2 linked regions of the Homo sapiens genome follow. The gene in region 2 interacts genetically with the main gene of each other region. Each region holds a gene or a part of one and is shown on either strand. Other genes may lie near its edges.

Region 1 (4,395 bases), on a different chromosome or scaffold from region 2:
AATTAAATATAGCCAGTTGACATGCATTTACACAGTTTGAATTGTTACATTTTAGATTGACAATTTTTGCAGCTCTGTTGTCACATAACTTACTCTTTTTTTGACCTCAGTTTATATTATTTATCCCCAAAAGATTAAATTCTTTAATAATTTATGTTGGATTATATAAATTTTTTAAATTTTTTTTGATTTTGGAAGTAAATTTTATTGTGCTGAAGTTAAAATGTTTGTTATTATACATATCAATGATAAATTTTCAACAAATTGTATGAACTCATTTATACATGTTAATTTTTTCTAGGTTGATTTATACCAATTACAAGTAAATACACTTAGGAGATACAAAAGACACTTCAAGCTACCAACCAGACCAGGACTTAATAAAGCACAACTTGTTGAGGTATATATGAGTTTTAAACTATTTGAACTATCTGCACAACCGAGAGGTTATTAAGTGCTAATGGAAGTTTTAATGTAGTGTATGTAACAGTACATTTTAATTAGAAAGAACAAAGTTAAAAAATCTGTTGTGGAAGAATCTAGTTGTGTAGAAATGTTTGTCTGCCACTTAGGAAATTCCTTTTTGTAATGACTGCTTAGTAGATTGTGTACAGCACCTTCTGATACTGGCTTTCAAAATGTGTTGATTGTTTTTTGAGACAGAATCTCACTCTGTCACCCAGGCTGGAGTGCAGTGGCATGATCTTGGCTCATTGAAACCTCTACCTACCAGGTTCAAGCAATTCTCCAGCCTCAGCCTCCCAAGTACCTGGGACTTCAGGTGTGCACCACCACACCAGGCTAATTTTTGTATAATATTTTTAGTAGAGATAGGGTTTCACCATGTTGGCCAGACTTGTTTCAAACTCCTGACTTCAAGTGATCTGCCCACCTCAGCCTACCAGAGTGCTGGGATTACCAGTGTGAGCCACCGTGCCTGGCCCTCAAAATGTTGAATGAGAGTTTTTTTAATCCTCACTTTAGAAATCTATTAATTTTAAAACTCCGTTTAACCAGTAAACATTTGAGCACCTAATTGAGGCATAATAAAATTAATTAACAAGCTTTAATGTCCTTATTAGAATTTATATTTTAAAGTGGTGGAATAGGCCTACAAATCAGACCCTAAACAGTATTTTTATAATTTGCTGACTTAACTATTTCAAAATTTGTCCTTGTTGATGTTTGTTTTATTAGAGACATCCATGTTTTTTTCACATCTAGAAGAGGCAAAAGCTTTTCTTTTACCCAAGCTTTTACTTGTAGTTTGCTTTGATAGAGGACTTCTAGTCAGTCACTGAGTTGTGAAAAGTTAACGGAGCATGCATATGTTTTCAGGATATAATAGAACCAAGAAATCTGTGCATCTTATTAAGATGTTTATAGATTTATATATATATATTTTAATCATATTTAAAATAAAAATTTTTACTTGCAGCTACTGAGGAGGATTGATTAAGCCTAGGAGTTTGAGTCACCATGGGCAACATAGCAACACTCCATCTCTAAAAAAAGAAAATTTGGCCTACTAGACAAAATAGAAGTGTAGAAATATAAATCAGTTTTCTCATATTCTTTGCATGGATTTAGTAGTTACCCAACATTTTCTAAAATGTGCCTATTGAATAAAATGAAATATGAATAGAAGTTACATTTATTTGGCAGAATGCTTTTTAACATTGTTAAAATCTAATATATTAACTATTTAGCTAAAATTTTTTATCCTTGGTTGGGCAACACAGATCTAATTAATTTTTCTTTAATTTTGATTTAAAAGATCAAGTTCTTTTGGGGTTGTACAATACATTAATGTAACATAAATATAGTTATTGCCCACCATGATGAAATATTTCAATAGGTACTAATGGAGTGAAGGCACCCCTGTTTTGGGACAAATGAGAACCAAAGAACTGATTATTTTAAATGTTATATTTAGGTATAAATTAAACCTGTAATTTTTGATAAACTGACCTTCTAAGAACAGTTATATTATTTCCAGAGCTATTTTCTTTTTTATACATAAGAGATAGCCATGAGTGTTATATTTTACTTAATCAGAAATGCAGATATTAGCAAGTTAAGGAATGTGCAGATGTAGTACATATATTTTAAGAGAGGGGTCCCCAACCCCAGGGCCATGGACTGGTACTGGTTGGTGGCCTGTTAGGAACGGGTCCGCAGAGCAGGAGGTGAGCACCAGCTAGCAAGCATTACTGCCTGAGCTCCGCCTCCTGTCAGATCAGCCACAGAATTAGATTCTCAGAGGAGTCCAAACCCTCTTGTGAAGTGCACATGTGAGGGATCTAGATTGTATGCTTGTTATAAGAATCTAATGCCTGATGATCTGAGGTGGAACAATTTCATACCAAAACCAACTCCGCCACCCTCAATCTGTGCAAAAATTGCCTTCCGTGAAATCTATCTCTGGTGCCAAAAAGGTTGGGGACCACTGTTTTAAGGGAATCCAGGGTTGTATGACTAAGTCTTAAGTCTCTTAATTATTGTGTGGATGAACTTTTTTCTTAAGAAATTTTATTTTCTGGAATCTAAATATGCATGTCAGCACCCCAGGTAAGTCTATTATTCTTCTATTAGTAATTGTAGTATGCATGTTATGTTAGCACAATGAAAAAGCAAGGAAGCAGGTAAACATCCTTCATTGAACATCCCTCTTTCTCCTCTCATTTCCATTCATAATTTTTATTCAGAAAAATTTTCAAGGAACCTTAACCAAAGAATGCTACCAAGGTGTGAATGAATGAATATAATTTGCAGCAAACAATTTATATGTTATTGTTGGTTTCTCTACTAGCAAAAGTTTTCAACTTCATACTTCTTTTTCTATCAGTAGAGTCTAAACCATTGCAGGTTTAATGATGCATGTGATCTCTTACGTCTGTTTTATCTCATTTAAAGTTTAAAAGTAAAATCATTTATTCCCTATTCTAGATTCTAATTATAAAATTTATTATTTTTATTTTATTTATTTATCTTTTTTTGAGACAGAGTCTTGCTCTGTTGCCCAGGCTGAAGTCCAGTGGCATGATCTCAGCTCACTGCAACCTCCACCTTCTGGGTTCAAGCAATCCTCCTGTCTAAGCCTTCTGAGTAGCTAGGATTACAGGTGTACACCACCAGGCCTATCTAATTTTTGTATTTTTTTTGGTAGAGATGGGGTTTCGTCATGTTGCTCAGGCTGGTCTCAAACTCCTGGGCTCAAGTGATCCACCCACCTCTGCCTCCCAAAGTGCTGGGATTACAGGCATGAGCCACCACGCCTGGCCCAATTATAAAATTTAAAATAAATAAAAGGAAAATATATTTTCTAATCAATGTATATTAAATTGAGTGGGTCAAAGGGTCCTTTGAAATCACACTATCTCTTGTTCGTAACATTTTATTCTTGAATGCTTTCTGTCTTGTTGATATTTTGTTAAATATAATTTTTAAAGGAAATAGCCCTTATCACATAGCACTTTTTCTTTTGATGAAACCGTATTTTTTACGTAGTTTATGAAACCTGTTATATCTAAAATTTAATTTCCTTAATTTTTCTTTTCTTTGTAGATAGTTGGTTGCCACTTTAGGTCTATTCCAGTGAATGAAAAAGACACCTTAACATATTTCATCTACTCAGTGAAGAATGACAAGAACAAATCAGATCTCAAGGTTGATAGTGGTGTTCACTAGGAGACGTGGAATTGAGACTAATAACTTGGATGTTAACACTGTTTACTGTTTTTTCACATGTAGAAATGTTCTTTGTGTATTTTTTCTACAGAGGATTTTCTCTGATTTTATTTTCTTTGTTTCTGACTCTAATAATTAGTTGGAAACTCATATAAAATGAGCTTTCCTAAATTAAATCTATTTTAAATAAAGGTTATTACTATTATAGTTGCTTCAGTGTATTTATTTTGTGAAACTTGATTTTTCTTTTAAACTGACTAAGAGATCAGTATTGAGATTTTAATGTAAAGTCCTTCATTTTGTAATCCTTTTTTTTTTTTTTTTTTAAACTTCCAAGAAATTAACAGGGTAAGGAGAAGTAACAAATGTAGCACATTTGCATTCTCTGGGACAATCTGACTTGGAAGTGAAGATAATCTAAATAGCATTATTTTTTAAAGTGCTTTATAGGGCTAGCAAATTTGAAAAATAAACTTCTCTTGGAATGCAACTTCTTTTTTATTTCCTTTTTTTTGTTATTATTACTTGATGAAGTACTAGGAAGAACAAATGGTTTAATTTATATACCCACCTCCTTCCAAAGAAGACTTAATGTGCCAGCAAAGATAAACACAATGCTGAAAGTTGAAATAAGAGTATAAAATTAAATAGCTGTTTTTCAAAATTTTGTCTTCGAGAAAAGATATTTATGTGGCATGAATATAG
Region 2 (3,816 bases):
ACCTAAATCTGCACATACTCAAAGCTTGTAGTCTGCCTTGCAGAACCCACGTATAGGCGATCGCCCTCCATATACAGTGGGTTTCGCATCCCACCGGTCTTTTCCGTCCATATTTGGTTGAAAACTGCATGTCCGTGGGCCCTAGCCATGTGTTCAATGTACAGGGGCAGCTGTAATCCTTTCCTGAAGGACTTATTAAAGGTAGGTGCTAGGACCGGGCATGGTGGCTCACGCCTGTAATCCCAGCACTTTGGGAGGCCGAGGTGGGTGGATCATGAGGTCAGGAGATCGAGACCATCCTGGCTAACGCGGAGAAACCCCATCTCTACTAAAAATACAAAAAATTAGTCGGGTGTGGTGGCGAGTGCCTGTAGTCCCAGCTACTCTGGAGGCTGAGGCAGGAGAATGGCGTGAACCTGGGAGGCGGAGCTTGCGGTGAGCCGAGATCGTGCCACTGCACTCCAGCCTGGGTGACAGAGCGGGACTATGTCTCAAAAAAAATAAAAATAAAAATAAAAAAAGAGGTAGGTGCTAACCACATGCAGCTATCTATGTAAGCCAAAATAAATTGAACACTATTATAAATTCAGTTCCACTGTGCCACTGGCCACGTTTCAAGAGTTTGGTAGCAACATTGTGTCTGAAGGCTACAGTGCTGGACAGCACAGCCTGAGAACGCTGCCATCACTGTGGAAAGTTCTACTGGCCATGCAGTTAGAGTTCTCATATGCTCTGTGCAGCAGCATCACGATGCCGGAGGGGGCAATGCCTGCAGCCCTCACCTGGCCCAGCACCCCAGGGCCTACCCCACCGACTTGTCACTCAAGTGACCATGGACACCCATCCTCCTTTTGGGGAGCATCTCATGGGACTGATGGTCCAAGGACCAAGCCACCAGGGAAACGCTGGCAGTGAGGACTGAAAAATAGCAGTCGTTCCCCTTTGGGTTGATCCATGCAGTGCCAGGCTCAGTGCTGGCACCCAACACCTCATCTCGCTCGAGGGAGGCACAACCGGCTGATCTCGTTTTACACGGGAAACTGAGGCTGGGGACGGTCAGCGATCTACCCCAGGAAGCCCGGGCTGATTCTGACAGTGAGGACTTCCTGCCTCCCTCCCACCACCCTCCCAGGGGGTTGCAGGTGTTACCTGGAGCTCGCTCAGGGGACAATGGGGGTCGAGCCTCCACCTCCTTGGCAGGGGGCTCTGGAGACAGCAACATGGCCCCTTCCTGGCTCAGGCCTGGTTCCTCAGGCGGCTCCCTGGAGTCCGCTGGCTCTTCAACACCCACAGGCAAGGGGGGCTCGTCCAGCATGGAGGGCCGCTCCTCAGGGGCCACAGCCTCAGTCTCGATGTCCACCTCCTCTTCCATGCCCAACGAGTCCACTGCAGGTGCCCCCGGGGCCAGAGCCGCTTCCTCCCCGTCCTGCTCAAAGTCCTCAGGGCCTGCAGAAGCCATGCTTTCCTCGGCCACCATCTCCTCCTCCTCCTCTTCTTCCTCCTCTTCCCTGGCCACTACCTCCTCCTCATCCTCCGAGGATGAGGGCGAGGACTCGGAGCTTGACTCAAACTCAGAAGACTCGGAACTCTCACTGGACGACGTGGCTTCGGCCTTGGAGGTTACAATGCTCACTGTCTCCTCTGGATGGGGGACACAGACGAGGGGCTGCCTGAGGACCCGCTGTGCCCCAGCCCCCACCAGACCCCTCACCAATGGCCTCAAACTGGTGGCACCCAGGCTGAACACGGCCCTCAGATATGTGTGTGGGGCATGTGTTCACTAGGAGTCTTTTTTTTCTTTTTTTTGAGTTTTGCTCTTGTTGCCCAGACTGGAGTGCAGTGGCACGATCTCGGCTCACTGCAACCTCCACTTCCTGGGTTCAAGCGATTCTCCTGCCTCAGCCTCCCAAGTAGCTGGGATTACAGGCATGCACCACCACGCCCGGCTAATTTTGTACTTTTAGTAGAGACAGGGTTTCACCATGTTAGCCAGGCTGGTTTCAAACTCCTGACCTCAGGTGATCCACTTGCCTCAGCCTCCCAAAGTGCTGGGATTAAAGGAGTGAGCCACCACACCCGGCCGCTAGTAGTCGCTTTTAAAAACTGAGGTAAAATTAACATAACAGAAAACTGCTCACTTTTTTTTTTTTTTTTTGAGACGGAGTCTCGCTCTGTCGCCCAGGGTGGAGTGCAGTGGGGCGATCCCGGCTCACTGCAAGCTCCGCCTCCTGGGTTCACGCCATTCTCCTGCCTCAGCCTCCTGAGTAGCTAGGACTACAGGCACCTGCCACCATGCCCGGCTAATTTTTTGTATTTTTATTAGAGACGGGGTTTCACCGTGTTAGCCAGGATGGTCTCGATCTGTTGACCTCGTGATCCACTTGCCTTGGCCTCCCAAAGTGCTGGGATTACAGGCGTGAGCCACTGCGCCCAGCCAAAAACTGCTCACTTTGTAAAAAAAATTTTATTTATTATTTTTTTTGAGGTGGAGTGTCACTCTGTCACCCAGGCTGGAGTGCAGTGGCATGATCTCAGCTCACTGCAACCTCTGCCTCCTGGATTCAAGCAATTCTCCTGCCTCAGCCTCCCAAGTAGCTGGGATTACAGGTGCCCACCACCACGCCTGGCTATTTTTTGCATTTTTAGTAGAGACGGGGTTTCACCATGTTGGCCAGGCTGGTCTCGAACTCCTAACCTCAGGTGATCCACTCGCCTAGGCCTCTCAAAGTGCTGGGATTACAGGTGTAAGCCACTGCGTCCGGCCAACTGCTCGTTACAAAGTGATAATTCCAGCAGCATTTAGTACATTTGTAATGTTGCACAACCACCACCTCGATCTGGTCCCTAAGTATTTTTATCAGTTGAAAAGGAAGCCATGTAGGCTGAGCAAGCCCCCCTGAACACCGGGCTCCCCAGCCCTAAGGACCACAGACCTGCTTTCTATTTCTATGGACATGCCATTATGTTCACGGCACTCCCTGAAGATGGAACCGTACGCCACCCTGTGTGTGTGTTTTAACAAGGTAACGTCTCAAAAGCACAACATTTTGGCTCAGAAGTATTTCTGACAATTGCTCAGGCTCTGCCCCGGGGAAAGAGGGACTCCGGGAGGGCCAGGCAGCCACGGCCTCCCTGCTCACCTTCATCCGAGTCCCCTTCGTCCTTCTCACTCGCCTCTGACAGGGCTGTGTCCTCGTCATCGTTCTCAGACTCGTCCCGGTCATCACTGTCGTCATCGTCGTCATCCTGGGGGAGAAGGAAGAGTGGGGACAGGTGAGCCGAAGGGTCTGGCCCTCGTCGCCTGGCCCGGCCCCCTGAGGCTTCCTGGCCTGCTAGGCACCTTATCTGATGTGGATGAGGTTGAGGAGGAGGAGAGCTGGCTCCTGGGGACTTCCTCCTCCTCCTCCTCCTCCGCCTCCTCTTCCTCCTCGGTGCTCTCCTGTTCCTCCTCCTTGTCGGAGGCCGAGGACGAGGGTGAGGTGGTTGAGGACCCCGAGGATGATGACGCGGATGAGGACGAGGACGCCGACAATGACTCCTTCTCGTCCTCCTCCCCACCACTGTCCAGCTCCAGAGGCCGCGCCGGCCGCCGCCGCACACCCACGCCCTTGGGGTCCCGCTTGGCGAGCTCACAGGGGGTGTCTGCCATATCCCGGTCTCGCTCTCGCTCGGACTCTGCAGGAAGGGAGGGAGTCAGAGCTGGGCTGGGGGGATGCGGAAGAAGGGGACCCCAGCACCCAGAGCACGAACCTTCATCTTCCTCATCCACAGAGGTCGAGGGCCGCAGCCGCTTCTGGTCGCCAGATGAGGTGGTGT

Evidence for each region.
Region 1: changes in SETD1B (region 2) and SAP30 together harm fitness more than expected from each alone (negative genetic interaction), as found in Homo sapiens cells (one large-scale study listed by BioGRID).

What each region holds. Positions count from the first base shown.
Region 1 is NC_000004.12:173,373,638-173,378,032, forward strand, and holds the end of SAP30 (histone deacetylase complex subunit SAP30), read left to right. Parts: intron 1-301; coding exon 302-400; intron 401-3,567; coding exon 3,568-3,690; 3' UTR 3,691-3,895; downstream 3,896-4,395. UniProt on the Homo sapiens protein: Involved in the functional recruitment of the Sin3-histone deacetylase complex (HDAC) to a specific subset of N-CoR corepressor complexes. Capable of transcription repression by N-CoR.
Region 2 is NC_000012.12:121,817,229-121,821,044, reverse strand, and holds part of SETD1B (histone-lysine N-methyltransferase SETD1B), read right to left. Parts: coding exon 3,751-3,816; intron 3,676-3,750; coding exon 3,341-3,675; intron 3,247-3,340; coding exon 3,141-3,246; intron 1,642-3,140; coding exon 1,150-1,641; intron 1-1,149. UniProt on the Homo sapiens protein: Histone methyltransferase that catalyzes methyl group transfer from S-adenosyl-L-methionine to the epsilon-amino group of 'Lys-4' of histone H3 (H3K4) via a non-processive mechanism.